Homo sapiens: one gene and its partner. The protein of the gene in region 2 interacts with the protein of the main gene of each other region in a pairwise test. Each region holds a gene or a part of one and is shown on either strand. Other genes may lie near its edges.

Region 1 (8,009 bases), on a different chromosome or scaffold from region 2:
TTTTGTATTTTTAGTAGAGACGGGGTTTCACCATCTTGGCCAGGCTGGTCTTGAACTCCTGACCTCGTGATCCACCCGCCTCAGCCTCCCAAAGTGCTGGGATTACAGGCGTGAGCCACCACACCTGGTCCAAACTAGGGTTCTTAAGGACAACATTGCCTCTCCCTCTGAGACACATCCTCAGGGCAGAGCCAGACTTCCCCATAGGCTTATGTGATCCCCCAGACTGGGGGCCCCTTACAAGGGAACCTGGCAGAGGTAAGCAAACAAAACAGCCAGAGATGCAGACACCGAGAAGAGGGCTCACTTTATTGAGAAAACAGAAGGTTGAGTACTTGGTACCAAGATGGAGCCTGGGGTAGGCAAAAAGCCTGAAAACAAAGCTTTAAGCTTCCTTTTTTACATGCCCGCCTCCCTGCCCCTAATTGGGGCAGCTCCTATTACAGACCCCCAGGCATTCTTTTCCCTGTCTCTGGGCAAATGCCCAGTAGATTTTACCAACAGATGTCTGTTTCTGGGACCCAGGAACATGAGGGAAGTGTCTCAGTTCTTTTCCAGGATGGCAGAGCCTTCAGAACCATCAACTCCTACCCCTCCATCGTGCAGAGGCCCAGAGAGGGACAGAGACCTGCCCAACACCACAGCAATGAAGTGGACAATGAAGATTCAAAACCACATTTGCGGTCTCCTCATTCCGAGAGGAGATTCTAGATGAGCCCCGTTACAGGAGTGTATTTGCACCGGCACACGCCAAGGGACTCCATCCCCATGACGCAGATGGCCCGGGACCTTCTTCCTTTCCAGGCTGTCCCTTCCTCTTGGGTCCCTGAGAGGGCAGTCCTGGTGAGGGCAGGAGAGGACAGCTAAGGCTAAGGAGCTTGGGAAAAGATGTCCTCTTAAGAACTGCTTTCCAGCACATGTTGTCCCACCTTCTGAAATTCAAGGAGATGGTTAAAAGAGAAAAGCCTTTCTCCGGACCCACCTGCAGCATTAAGAACCATGGGTTGGGCTGGGCACGGTGGCTCATGCCTGTAATCCTAGCACTTTGGGAGGCCGAGGTGGGTGGATCAGTTGAGGTCAGGAGTTCGAGACCAGCCTGGCCAACACGGCGAAACCCCGTCTCTACTAAAAATACAAAATTAGCCGGGCACGTGCCTGTAATCCCAGCTACTCAGCAGGCTGAGGCAGGAGAATTGCTTGAACCCGGGCGGCGGAGGTTGCAGTGAGCCGAGATCTCGCCATTGCACTTCAGCCTGGGTGACAGAGTGAGACTCTGTCTTAAAAAAAAAAAAAGAAAGAAAGAAAGAAAAAAAAAAAGAAGCATGGGTTGGTGCAGGCATGGCCTAAAACATTAGATAATATGAAAAAAGCTGCATTTTATTGGGCACTTACTATGCACCAGGGACATTGTTCATTAGCTCAGTAGATAACTACTGTGTGTCCATTTGCATTTCCTGGGAACACTTTCATGACCAAAACAGACAAGGTCCTTCACTCATAGCCTCTTTCTGAATCTTCTCAACTTCTCATCAGCTAAGTGCTGTCATCCATGACTGAGAAATGGCTCAGAGTGAAATGACATGCCCAAGGTCACAAGGCAACAACATGGCAGTCAGTCAGAAAATTATCAAACAAGCAGGACTTCCAAGGCAAGGAAGAAATGGATGGGGAGAGGGATCTACCAAGGTTACAGCAGTTTTTTGAGCAGCTGGCACGTGCCTCTGCTGCCAACATGATGAGGTACAGAACCCAGCACAGGGAATGCTCAGCCTGTGACTGTGAGCTGGATGTGAGAGTCTCCTGAGGACCCTCGGTATACTCAGAGCATTTCCTCTCAGGGTGCAGGAAGAGGAAAGCAGAGGAAGTGGACTTGAAGGACCAAAGGTGGGATCCTAGCTGAGCCAATCACTGAGAAGCCATGTGGTCTTGGGCAAGTCATTCCCTTCTCTGAGCCTCAGTTTCCCCATCTGTAAAATGGAGGTAATGATACTATGCCTACCTCATCATCATGCTGTGAAGATTAAATGAGTTATGCCATGGAAGTGCTGTACATTACCCATTGATAATGTCTCAGTGGCCTCTCAATGAAATGGAGTGTGACAGAGTGCCACACTCTGAAACGGCTCATCCCCGGTGATGGTGCTGGGACTAGAACCCGGGCAACCTCGCAGTGCCATGCCCTACTGCATCACTACGTCCACCTCGAGGGCCCCCTCCAGCTCCTCTCTAAGCCCCATTTTGAATTCCCAAGCTGCCTGCAGCCTGAACCACACAGCCATCTGTCACCCAACTCTCAATATCTGCAAGCTCAGCGTGGGGCGGCCAGGTCCTGATTTGCTCCCGTCACTCCTCCCGGCTCCCAGAAATAAAGGAATAAATACATGATGAAAGAGAGGCATCTGTATGTGTTTTGTGTGTGAGTGCAGGGGCCAGGATCTGGGTGCCAGGGATGGGGGGTGGTCACTTCCTAGGGGCTTTGGGGCCGCTGGGGCCGGCTTCAGTCTGGATCTGCAGCAGGTGTTAGTGGGAGCTGGCAGCCAGTAGTCATGCCCTAGGTGAGGGATCTGCGGCTGACACAAAGAGAGGGCTGGCCTTTGGACAGAGACCCAGCAGGTGCCCAGCCTGGACTGTTGTTCTTCCAAGTCCTCTCAGGATGCTAGTGGGCCCTCTCCAACTTGAGGAGCATTTCTTTTTAATTTTTTTTTTTTTTCAGACAGAGTCTCGCTCTGTCGCCCAGGCTGGAGTACAGTGGCAAGATCTTGGCTCACTGTAACCTCTGCTTCCTGGGTTCAGGCGATTCTCCCGCCTCAGCCTCCTGAGTAGCTGGGATTACAGGTGCACGCCACCACGCCTGGCTAATTTTTGTGTTTTTAGTACAGACAGGGTTTCACCATGTTGGTCAGGCTGGTGTTGAACTCCTGACCTCATGATCCACCCGCCTTGGCCTCCCAAAGTGCTAGGATTACAGGCGTGAGCCACTGCACCCAGCCCTTGAGGAGCATTTCTAATTCCAAGCCCAGCAAGCCTCCTTAGAGCAGCTGCCTCTGGCACACGTGTAATTATCAGAGAATAAGCCTGTATCGAGGCCCCACTATGTGCCAGGCACTTTGGTGGCACTTTGCTTACCATATCTCTAGCTTTCAGAGAGTGCTCTCGTGGAGGTGAAGTGACTTGCCTAAGATCACACTGCTAGCACGTGGCCAAGAATTCGGCAAAGCTAGGACTCTTATTAAGTGAGGCTGATGATCGTATTAGAGATGGACCAATTCCCACATCTCAACTCTAGAAGGAAACTGAAGCTCAGAGAAGGCAAATCCCTTGTCTAGGTCACACAGCCAGTTAGCTTGAGAGCTGGGATTTGATCCAGGCTTGGGGGCTGCCTGGGCCATGTAAAAAACTAAATTGGAGAGCTCCCATCACCCTCCTGCCCTCCCTACTCGCATCCTCTCTTATGACACTTGACATTATCCATCACTCCCTCCTCCTGGGAACGCCCTCCTCCTCCAGTTTCCATGGTAGCACATTCTCTCCATCCTCCTCCTGCTTCTCTGGCAGCTTCTCACTCTCCATGGTGGCTCCTGGGCCAGGAAGCAAGGGGATCCCCAAGCTGGATCTCCAGTCTCTTCTCTCTCTCCATCACTAGCCCCGACAGCTCACCTACTCTTCCCTGTAGGTCTCTAGCTCTGACCCTGAACCCTGGCTCCACTTGTAAGCAGTGACTGCCACTTACCATGTACTTAGAGTTTACTTACGTTCTGGGCCTTATCCCTATACATACATTAAATCCTCACAACCACCCGTGAAGGAAGTCTACTCTACAGATGAGGAAACTGAGGCTCAGAGAGGGAAAACCAAGATCTGATTCCAGGCTTAACCACTACTTCTACTGCATCAAGACGAGGTATGAGAGCTGGGCACAGTGGCTCACACCTGTAAACCCAGTACTTTGGGAGGCCAAGGCAGGAGAATTGCTTGAGGACAGAAGTTCAAGACCAGTCTGGGCAACACAGAGACACTCTGGTCTCTATTGAAAAAAAAAAAAATTGGCCGGGCTTGGTGGCTCACGCCTGTAATCCCAGCACTTTGGGAAGCTGAGGCGGGCAGATCCCCTGAGGTCAGGAGTTCGAGACCAGTTTGGCCAAATGGTGAAACCCCGTCTCTACTAAAAATAAAAATATTAGCTGGGTTATGGTGGTGCACACCTGTAATCCCAGCTACTCAGGAGGCTGAGGCGGGAGGATGACTTGAACCCAGGAGGCGGAGGTTGCAATGAGCCGAGATGGTGCCACTGCACTCCAGCCTATGCGACAGAGGGAGACCCTGTCTCAGAAAAAAAAAAACCCAAACAAAATAAATGAATAAAAATAAAAATAAAATTGCTGGGCATGGTGTCACACACCCGTCGTCCCAGATTCTCAGGAGGCTGAGGTGGGAAGATCACTTGAGCCCAGGAGTTTGAGACTGCAGTGAGCTATGACTGCACCACTGCACTTGCACTCCAGACTGGGCAACAGAGCAAGACACTGGCTGAAAAAAAAAAAAAAAAGATGATGAAGAAGAAGAGATCTGAAACAGTAGGACATTTTGAAATCAGGGGCAAAAACTTCCCTCCCTCCTCCTGGAGGGAGATAAATGGAAATTTTGGGGGAAACAGACCTACTCTGCAGTTTTGAGAACCCTGTGACGATCTAGAATTACACTGTCAATTTAGAGCTTTAAAATGCACCATGCACAGTACATTCTGAAACGTGAAGATTTGGAGAGCTTCAGGAGGAACAAAAGTTCATGGAAAATTGCTCGTTTCCTTTAGATTTTTCCATTTGGTTTTAGGTCTTCAAAACCTCATTCTGGGGTTCCAGCTTCTAAGGCCTTTCTACTTCACTGATGCCTGGAATTAACTGGAAACATGGACCCTGGAATTCCAGGGACCCAAGTTCTGCCACTACGAACAGGCCCTGTGACTTAGGAGCAAGTAGCCTGACCTCTCTCAGCCTCAGCTCTCTTTGTCCTCAATGGGGATAACACTACTTCCTCACCAGGCTGTCCTGAGGATCAGGTGGGCTGATGCACACAAGACACCTGGCAGAGAGCCTGGCACACAGAAGAGCTTAGTTAAGCCCCATGCTCCAGCTGCACCCAACTTGTTGGGTTTGCCAAGCATTTAAACATCCCCATGCCTCCGCACACGCTATTTCCTCTTTTTGGTGGCCAACTCCTATTCATCCTTCAGGGTCCCCGACCCTTTTCCACCTCTTACAGAACTGCGACAAACATGTGTTTTAGTGAAAAGCTAGAAAAGGCACTTCCCTGTGACACCCTCCCTGGGGCTCCCTGTCACCGCACTCATCACACTGAGGTGCAATCATCTGTTGATGCTTTATCTCCCAACACTGGCTCAGGCTTTCTGAGGGCAGGGCCAAGGCTGACTCATTCCGAGTCCTGATGCCCAGAGTGCATGCTTGGCATGAAGTAGATTTCAATACAAGTTTGCACTACCTTAAACACACGTGGTCCGGACCCGGGCCCTGCTGACCTCAGGACAGATTTACATATCAGAAGGGGCAAAAAACAGCCAGATCTGTTACAGACACAGGAGATGGCAGTGAGTGGGCTTCAAGCAGCCTTGAAACAGGCCTATCCTGGGAGGGGACACAGGTCCTGCAGGGAGAGTAAACAGCCTGGCTCCAATGTCACCTCCTTCAGGAGTCTTCCCCAGTTCCTAGATTGTCCCTTTTTCTGCCATACCCCCAAAGCATTCACAGGAGGACCCCTGATGAGGAGAAGTGTCTCCTGCCATGCTGACGACCTCCCACCCTCAGACACAGGGGTCTCTGTGGTCACAAGGTAGTGAGAGTGATCTAGGTGGCTTGGGACCCCAGGTCACAATGGCTTGGCAGGCTGGATGTGAGTGCTGGGCATGGCCCCACATCTTTCCAGGACCCGGGGTAGCCATTTCCCAAAGGAGGCACATCCCCGGGTCTGGGGCTGCTGGGAGCCTCACCCTGAGAAGGGGGCTGTGCTTTGCCCTCTGAGAGCATCCCTTCCCCCTAATGTGCCCAAAGCCCCTCTTGGTGCCTAAGTCCCCAGCCCCCTGCATGCTATTCAGTCCCTGCTGGAGTGACAGCCTCCCAGCTTTTGTTCCAAAGACATGGCTGTCAAAGGGAAAAGAAGTATATTGTTTCTTTTTCTTTTTTCTTTTGTTTGAGACAAAGACGTCAATTTCTTTCCATCTGTCCCAAAAAAGGAAGAAAATTAAATTTGTTTTTACAAGGATGTCAGCACACTGCTTCAATAGGGAGTCAGGGGTGCATTACTGAGGCAGTGTTGGTGAGGGAGGGGACAGCAGCGGAGGGAGAGGAGATGAGGCACGGGGGAGGTACAGAGAACAAGGACAGACACTGATATTCTGGGAAGCAAAGATCCAGGAGTGCCTGAATAAAATGCCGAACCAATGAAAAGAAAAACTTCTACACCCAACTCCAGGTGGATATCACTCTCAGCAGCGTGAAGGGGACAGCTGGGCTGGAGCAGGTGGGGGACCTGGGGAGCCTGGGGGGAAAGGCAGAGGGGGACACACACTGATGCCGGCATTGCAGTTACAAAAGCTTCTCCCCCCAGTTCCTTCAAGGTCAGGTCCCCATATGGGCAGTTCCAGTTCACTGGAGTCATTGACACCAGACACATGGATGCAGCCAGATGTTGGGAGAATGGAAGAGGATTTCATCCAGGTTCTTATCAGGGCCCAGGACCCAGCACCAAGTGCGAACTGATGCTTCTCATACCCCGCCCCCCGCCCTCAAGAGTCCCAGGCACCACTTACCATCTACGGGATCTAAGTAGGTGGTCCTCTGTCCTCCAGTATCTGGGCCAGAGAAACTAGGGCCCTGGGGACTCACAGAAAGCATCCACCTTCCACTGGAAGACCTAACCTTGAAGCAGGAGCCCACCTCTTCCTCCACCCACCCACCACCACCCCTTGGCACGGAGGTCCACTCCGGGTCTGGGTTTTCGAACTGGTTTTGGAAGCCTTCTCCTTCCCAAGCCTCTGGGCCCCCATTAGTACTCAGTTCTGGGGACCCTACTCCAACCAAGGTCCTGTCTTATTACCCTATCCTGGAGTGGCTGCCCCCCGCTCTGCTGTCCTGTCCCAAGCCCCACTGTGGCCACCGATTCTGAGGGATTCCTGCCCATTCCAAGGAAATACATGCCTGTCAAAGAGATAAAAGGTATACTGTTTCTCTCTCTTCCTATCTCTTCTTCCCTCATTCTCCCTCTCTCTCCTTTTTGAGAGACAGAGTCTTACTCTGTCCCCCAGGCTGGAGTGCAGTGGCACCACCATAGCTCACTGCAGCTTCAAACTCCTGGGATCAAGTGATCCTCTCACCTTCCAAGGAGCTAGGCCTGCAGGTACACACCACCATGCCTGGCTAATTTTGTATTTTTTGTAGCGACAGGGTCTCCCATGTTGCCCAGACTAGTCTCGAACTCCTGGGCTCATGTCCATCCACCTGCCTCGGCCTCCCAAAGTGCTGGGATTACAGGCTTGAGCCACCACGCCTGGCCCCTCAGTCTTTTATATTCTATTTATAAAGGTGTCAAGTCGGACCTGGACCTCAGCGAGCCTTGCCCCTTGCTAGAACTCAGGGCTGGGACTGTATCCCGTATCCAAAGATGAGGCCACAGGCCCTTTGCACAGGCGCCCTATCTGGTGACCAAATCTTCAGCTGTAGCCACACCCAGCTGTCCTGTCTCTGGGTCTCCCCTCACAGGAGGCTCCTCCCTACTACACAGAGGCCCAGTCTTGCAGCTCAGTTTTCAAGCAACTGTCCCCACCACTGCCCTTTCTGGGTCCTGGGCCCGGACCCCCAACTCCGAAAGTCCGGCTCCAAGTTAGAAACCGAAGCTGTCTCAAGGTTGAAGCCCCGCCTTCCTGGAGATGCCCTGTTTAAGGACTCAGTTGTAGAGCCACAGGTCCCGCTCCTCTCCTGGAGTCACTGGCTTTCCCGCCC
Region 2 (8,009 bases):
TCCGGCTTTTGTCTGGCTTGGGCCCTCCTGGTCATCTTGTCCTAGGCAGCCTGTGGAGGTCTATGAAAGCCACACCTCCAGCCAGCTGATGCTGCGCCCGAGTCACATGGCAGGCGCCACAGGCAACCCCGGTGCTCACAGGGCATCAGGGAGCACAGCAGCATCTGCCATGGAGGCGGCTTATAAGTTAGTGACATACAGTTATCTCACTTGGTGGCAGTCACCTTTAGGCTAAAGCATCCAAATCCCAGGAAGAAAATACTCACGTTAGTTGATGGATGTTGGAAGGCATTGGAGGAAAACACCACAGTTAGGACTGTTAATGACTTACACACTGTTGGTGAGACTCATCTCGAACATGCGCAAACATTGATCGTAGTAACGGTGGTGGTGGTTAGTGCCACATTCAAATAAAAATAGTTCTATACAATATGTTCATTTGGTCATGTGCTATTTACAGATTTTACAAAACACACACATACACACACATACACACTTGCCCTTATGTTCTCTATACCAGGCCAGCAGAAACTTGCATAAAATGTACATCACAGATGACAATTAGTGCCTGTACATTAAGAATACAATTCCTATGACTACCTACACAGCAGAGCAGGAGCCTTCTTCCCCTCAAGCAGAGTACAACTAAAGTTCTGAGCTAAGAACTGGAGAGAAAGTTGGACATGTCTGTTAGTCCCAGGTAAGCCACTTACGAGTTAAAGACAAGACAGTTATTTTTCTCTGTCCATTTAAAATGTTTTATTTTTTTAAAACTAGATGACGTGCCACTGAAATAGGCAATGTTGGCAAAACAATGTCTGTTACAATAAAATACATTAGACATTTAAATAAATAACCTTAAAAACTATGTGAAGGGACATAAACCCAGTCGATTGAATCTGGAACAATGTTTTCTGCACAAGCGAGTACAGGCATACCTCTCGTTAAAACTGATGTAAACAGAACGAACCATCACAATCCTAAAGAAGAAGCCAAGCGGGGCGGGGGTAAGGTGGGGAGAGGTGGGGTGGGGTGGGGTGAACGGAGGCCAAAGTGGGTGAGGGAAGTAGCAAACCAAAACAATACTGACTGAGGTAGCAAGACTCTGCTCAGTGCAGAAAAATTGGCTTATGAATAAAAATTAGACTGTGATATCAAATTAAATCCGGATCATCATGCAAAAGACACAATACATGCTATTTAGTTTTAGAAAAAAAACCACACACATTCATTTCCTAAAATCTGCTGCCAATTAATTTGCTGACAATGTCTGCTGGCTCAACTATTTTTTTTATACAAGGATGAGTATTAAACAGAACACTGTACATGCTTTTTCATCTACAAAAAAATATTTGCATAAAATAGTGTTAGTTCTCTGTACATGTCAATGGACACTTTAATTATGTGTATAAAAAAGGAAAATCTTGCCCCACTGGAGTCAGAAAAAGCAAAACAAAATCTAGAGTATGAAACCTCCATCACCAGCCAGTATGTTCATGTGAAAATTCAGCAGAAATAGACAGTTGCTTTAAACAATAAAAAAATTAATTGATTAAGTTAAACATCTTCTTTATGGAAAACTGTCAGTCAAGACCAGAACATATCGCTAAAGTTAGTGTCTGTGCTATAGACCCAGATCACCAGGGGCATTATGAGCAGCACAAACGGCCAGGAAATCCCATCGGTGCATGCCGAGAACGAGCAGGATTTGGTGGCAGGCTGCACACACTCTTTACCAGGTTCCAGGTAGTTGCGGGCCACAAACTTGAGCGTCTCATCCATGAGAATCACGGGCAAGGAGATTTTCAGCACCATCAGCCACTGGGTCACGTTCAGCGGTGTGATCTGGAAGATGAGCTGACACACAGGGAAGACGTGTCACGCCTCCAGCCTCCCCTGGAAGGAGGTGGCTGGTCCCAAGCCCCACCCAACCACTTACTGGCAAGGGTTCGACATAGAGGATCAGGAAGTGGAGTGACATGGACAGGCAGATGGAGCCCACGAGCCAGATGTTCTCCCAGGGGGGCATCCTCAGCAAGGACTGGTTTTCGGACAAGCTGCAGAGCAAGGAGAGGTGGGGAAACGCACCCCCAAGGCAAGGCACGTGTCACAGTGGCAGTAAGACCCTGTTGGACTACACTTCAGTAAGGCGGCTGTTAATGTGGCACCATCCGCTGACCTACCTCCACTTTCTACAGTGGCAAAGTTGAAGAGAATGTCCTAATGCAGGACAAACTGTGAATTCTGTATCTATGTTTTGGCATAGCAGACCCCATCTTAGTGGGTTCAAAGCTGTTCCCAATTGCCCTGGAGACTTGGGCTATTTAGAAATTTCCATTTTTGTCACGGGCTTAACTGGATGGTACCATTTGTCTGTGTGAAAGGGTGAGGTTCCTTCCCTGTGGGTGCTGGCATACAGGGGTACCAAAGTTCCTATTTTTGGCCCCCACGGTTTCTTTTAAGGAAGAGCTCCTAAGAAACACAGGGCTAAGCACTCCCACTACTTCCTGGAGGTGACGACAGCTCATGCTTTTAAAACTGGTATTGCCTGTTCTCCTTTCTTTTGGGAAGGGAAGAACTGTCCTGTGATCCTCAATCAACCGTGACTACACACAATTCCCCGGTGCCCTGGCAGTCACCATGCTCGCCTCAGCCTGCCGTGAAGGTGCACTAACCTGTTGAGGGCGTTACACATTTCTATAGTTACTAGAACAGAGAGCGCCATTGTCATCGGGTATGGGGATTCAAAGATTGCACAATCCACGCCTTCAAAGTCCGGGTTGTCCTCTTTACACTGTAGGAAATGACTCTGCAAGAAAATCCAATCAAATTCCTATCAGCCCAGTATATTTCCCAAGTCCAGGCTCCAACCCCATACCAAGCCTAGCACAGACCAGCCTGAATGCAGAGCCAGCCAAGAGGTTTACCCCAATTTCTCGGAGAAGCCCTGGTCCTTCAGAATCATCTTAGATGTAACTGTTTATTGTCTGAGTCTTAAGATGATTTGATAGATACCGAAACCACAGAAAGGTCAAGGCCTCACAACACTTCTCATGTAAGGTACAGAAAGAAAGGTGACTGAGTACCAGCTGGTAGAAGGACACTCTTGGACCACCGTCAGCAGCAATGAACCACCATGCAGCAGCACCCACGGTAGCAGCGCCGACGTAACCTGGGAACAAACACAGTGATGCTGATGCACTTGCCTCTGCAGGGCTCGCTGCCACCGAGGCCATGCAGGCCAGTCCCCACAAGGACGAAGATCAAAGACATGGGACAGTGATGGTAACCGGGGCCTGTGGTGCTACCACCACCTGCTCACGCCTGGTAGCCAGAGCAACTAGACCCTGGTTTCTGAAGGACAGGGGTGTTTCTAGAACAGAAGAACTGGATAACTTTTCCTCCAGAATGTGTGAGAAAAAGCACTTGCTCCATCCTGTGCCAACCTTTCCCCTTGCCGTGCCTTCTCCCCTCAGTGGGTAGTACTTCAAGGCTGCAAGTGTGTGTGTACTCCATGTAAGGCTGCACAGTTTGAGGGACTAGATTACACCAGGACTTTTGGACAAACTATTGCTGCCTAGTTGTACACAGATTTATTTGCTCCATTAGAGGCCCAGCAGCAGTTTTCTAGGGAAATGCTGTCAGGAGCTAGGGTGGAACACTGAGCAGCATGGCCCTGCCCTCAGCAGCTTCTGGGATTCCCCCCAGTATTAGCTTTGAGTTCAGGAAGTTTATTGCAAAGAAGCAACAAGGTGCAGCAGAGAATACACAGAGTTCAGACGAGGCAAATATCCCCATGTGGTAGCATCAAAAACAACAAGTGCATATACCCACTAACCCACGAATTACAGTGGAGCATGAAGGCCGCTGGCTGCAAGGATGAGGCACTACGCATGTCCGGATATGGAAGGATCTGACAAGCAGGAAGAAGGCAAGACAAGGGTCAACATGCAGGTGTGCACAGCATGCTGGAATCTCTCCGGAAGGGCACAGGGTACATGAGCACCTCAACGCCAGAGGGAAGTGACTGGCCCAAACCCTTTCCATTCTATGCCATTGTGTGCTTTTTGAATTTGAAGTCATGTGAATATATTATGAAAACACAATGCCTTCCTATGGGATCCCAGGGAAGTGATTTCACCTCACTTTCCCAATCTATGAAATGGGGAAGAACCCGGGGTGAGGAAGATGAGGGCTAAAGAGATGATTTATATATAAAAGGGACCAGCCACTGCGCAACCCTTCTCTTATGGAAACAGGGACTAAATTTTATAACTTGGTGACAATTATCTATTTAAATCCCACCTATGAACTCTTGGAAGGCAGAACCTAGCGTGAATCATTCTTATCCCTTTGCACAGAGGGCTCAATCTGAAAACCCTGATGTTTAATTGCTCATTCAGAAAAGCCCAAGTAAGGGCAGGATGCTAAAACTGGAACTAACTGTGAAAGGACTCTGGTAAATTGGATGTATAGTTCATCGAACTGTAAGAGGGCATCTCTGTCTTTTGCTACCCTATACGGGGATAGAAGAAAAAACACGCTTTTAAGGGATGAATTTACAAAATTTCAGCTCACAAACATTTTGTTTAAAAATCAGTAATATAAAAAAATTGTACTCACAGCCAATAGCCAAGTAACGGAAAAAGAGCCACCCGCTGATCAATGGTTCCTTTGGGTTCCGGGGAGGTTTATTCATGATGTCCAGATCAGGAGGGTTGAACCCCAGTGCAGTGGCAGGCAGGCCATCTGTCACCAGATTGACCCAGAGCAGCTGAACAGGAATCAAAGCCTCGGGAAATCCAAGGGCTGCTGTCAGGAAAATACTGTTTCCAATCAAGAAAAGAAGACAAAGAGAGCCCAAATGACTTCTGGCCACTATTTAAAGAGCATCATCAACCCGCCCTCCTCCAGAAAAATAAATGACAACAACTTCAGGTAATCTGTAAAATACTTATACCCAATTTTGAATTAAAGCTCAATTTTACTTAGTTTATTACTTAAATTCAGATGACTGAGGCCAGGTGCGGTGGCTTATGCCTGTAATCCCAGCACTTTGGGAAGCCAAGGTGGGCAGACTGGCTGAGCTCAGCAGTTAAGAGACCAGCCTGGGCAACATGGTGAAACCTCATTTCTACTAAAACACAAAAAAATGGCAGGGAGTGGTGGCGCATGCCTGTAATCCCAGCTGTTCGGGAGGCTTGAACCCAGGAGGTGGAGGGGACAGTGAGCTGAGATCGTGCCACTGCCCGAAGCCTGGGCGACAGCGAGACTGTCTCAAAAAAATAAATAAAAATAAAAAAATTATTAAGCTGACTGAGATAAAGCCAACTTTTGGAGGGCAAGAATTTCATGTGACTACCTGGTTAATGTTAGCTCAGTCTCACGTTAAAGAGGATTCTTTGCACATTGGGGCAGCTGCAGACAACCCTCCCGAGGGCCAAAGCACCACTGCTTCCATAAGGCATTTCTGTCTTGCCCACTCCCCTCTTCCAACTCAGGCACAAAGACCAAAGCTGCTGCAATCTGGAGAGCAAACTGCGAGAACTGGGCTCCATGACCCATTTAGATAAAGGCGTACAGTAAGTGATGCTGTCACAGAGACCTACCAGACAACTTCCCCGACGTTGGACGAGATGAGGTAGCGGATGAACTGTTTCATGTTGTTGTAGATTGCCCGCCCCTCCTCAACGGCAGCCACAATGGTGGAGAAGTTGTCATCCGCCAGGACCATCTCAGAGGCGGTTTTAGCCACCGCAGTGCCAGAGCCCATAGCAATGCCAATCTCGGCTTTCTTCAGAGCAGGAGCATCGTTCACGCCATCGCCAGTCTGAAAGGGAAAGCAATGGTTGGGTCAGCCAACTGGCATGCCACATTCATACCCCTAGGCAAAAGCCCACTGAATGGGAAGCAGGAGGAAAATGAATAGAGCCGTAGGTCTCTTGGCAAAGAGTTTTAGAATTTTTGTTTCATAAGTTGGTGTCACAAAACACATTTTACCTAGGAAATGTAAAATTACCAAATAAGTTTACCGAAGTGGGACAAAGGGGACTTCAAATTTATCTGTATTATCTTACTAAAAACAAAAACACAACCTATGTGGCAGTCAAGAGGAAGCACTTGTATCCACATGGATAAATTTCAAGTAGAAAGATGCAGATTGCAAAAATATGCAAATTTTTATTTTTCTGAGATGGAGTCCCGCTCTGTCGCCCAGGCTGTAGTGCAGTGGCGCAGTCTCGGCTCACTGCACGCCTCCTGGGTTCAAGCGATTCTCCTGCCTCAATCTCCCGAGTAGCTGGGATTACAGGCGCCCACCACCACACCCAGCAATTTTTTGTATTTTTAGTACAGACGGGGTTTCACCATGTTGGCCAGGCTGGTCTTGAACTCCTGACCCCAAGTGATTCACCTGCCTCGGCCTCCCAAGTGTTGGGGTTACAGGCATGAGCCACTGCACTCGGCCAAAAAATATGCCTTCAAAAGCATGCAAAAATAATACTGTCTACAGACACAAAAACAGCACTCCCATGTTTTTAATATTTTTGCTAAATTCCAACTTCAGTTACCTCTGGGGGAGAGGAGAGTACACTTATAGTATGTTTCAAAACTAAGATTTTTTTTTAAAAGAGAAGAAAGTAAATTTAACATAATGTATCTGGGTGAAAATCAGGTGAGGGGAAGAATACTGGAAATGCTTCATCAATAGCCAGCTCTTAAAGAACTTAAAAGCAGGGTGATCCAAACAACTGACTGATTACATCCTCAATTTTCAGAAAACTTACAATAAAAACACGTCTCATTTAAAAAAGAGACTAGATCACCAGATTGTTCCTCTGGGACTGATCTGGAAGGCCCTTCTGGGTTTTAAACGACTCTAGGATCTTCCCTGCAAGTAGCACACAACATGCTAACCACTGATTCACCGAATTCTAGAGAAAAGACCCAAATCATGACAAATTCCAAATTAGGGAGCTATGACAAAAAAATTCAGTGGTCAAAATTAGAGGCTACTATGTGCTTGTGTAGCCTGAGTCACCTGTACATGTTCAAACATGCTCACCATAGCTGTAATCTCATCAAAAGACTGAAGAAATTCTACGATTTTAGACTTGTGGGAGGGTTCAACTCGAGCAAAACAGCGGGCGTTCAGGCAGGCGTCTCGCTGGGCGGAGGGGTTGAGTTCATCAAACTCCCGGCCTGTGAAAGCTTTTGACGTCACGTCCTCATCCTGCCCGAAGATGCCGATGCGGCGACAGATGGCCACAGCAGTGCCCTTGTTGTCCCCAGTGATCATGATGACCCGGATGCCTGCTTGCCGGCACAGCTTCACGGAGGAGGCCACCTCGATTCTCGGAGGATCCAGCATGCCCACGCAGCCAACGAAGGTCAGATTGGTCTAAAATAAGAGCATCACTTTAAATAAAAGTGGCAAGTTCTAGTTTTTGTCCCCTAGTTTGAAAAATGCCCAGTTAAACATTGAGACAGGTTTCTGCATTTTTTTTCTTTTTTTTTTTTTGAGGCGGAGTTTCGCTCTTGTTGCCCAGGCTGGAGTGCCATGGCGCAATCTCAGCTCACTGCGACCTCCGCCTCCCAGGTTCAAGAGACTCTTCTGCCTCAGCCTCCAGGGTAGCTGGGACTACAGGTATGCGCCACCACACCTGGCTAATTTTGTATTTTTAGTAGAGATGTGGTTTCTCCATGTTGGTCAGGCTGGTCTCAAACCCCCAACCCCAGGTGATCTGCCAGCCTCGGCCTCCCAAAGTGCTGAGATTACAGGCATTTGAGCCACCGTGCCTGGCGGTTTTTGCATTTTCTTATGAGAAAAAAAAATACCACTACACCCGTTATCAAACCATTCTTTAACTCTTGTGCTATTCTGAGCCCACAGTACCAAAGCTTCTTCATTTTGTTCATAGCTTTAGGATGTCACATCCTTGATATAAAAGAATTCTACTCTGAGTAGAAAAGTGGAAGTAATCTCCAACTTGGATCTTTTGACCTTCAGT

Evidence for each region.
Region 1: the proteins of ATP2A2 (region 2) and OPRD1 interact in binary tests that used the Homo sapiens proteins (3 or more experiments, as listed by UniProt).

Annotation. Positions count from the first base shown.
Region 1 is NC_000001.11:28,863,541-28,871,549, reverse strand, and holds the end of OPRD1 (delta-type opioid receptor), read right to left. Parts: 3' UTR 283-8,009; downstream 1-282. UniProt on the Homo sapiens protein: G-protein coupled receptor that functions as a receptor for endogenous enkephalins and for a subset of other opioids.
Region 2 is NC_000012.12:110,340,049-110,348,057, reverse strand, and holds part of ATP2A2 (sarcoplasmic/endoplasmic reticulum calcium ATPase 2), read right to left. Parts: intron 7,400-8,009; coding exon 7,064-7,399; intron 5,831-7,063; coding exon 5,610-5,830; intron 4,827-5,609; coding exon 4,624-4,826; intron 3,173-4,623; coding exon 3,087-3,172; intron 2,810-3,086; coding exon 2,676-2,809; intron 2,058-2,675; coding exon 1,940-2,057; intron 1,858-1,939; coding exon 1,588-1,857; 3' UTR 666-1,587; coding exon of another isoform or gene 646-665; 3' UTR 1-645.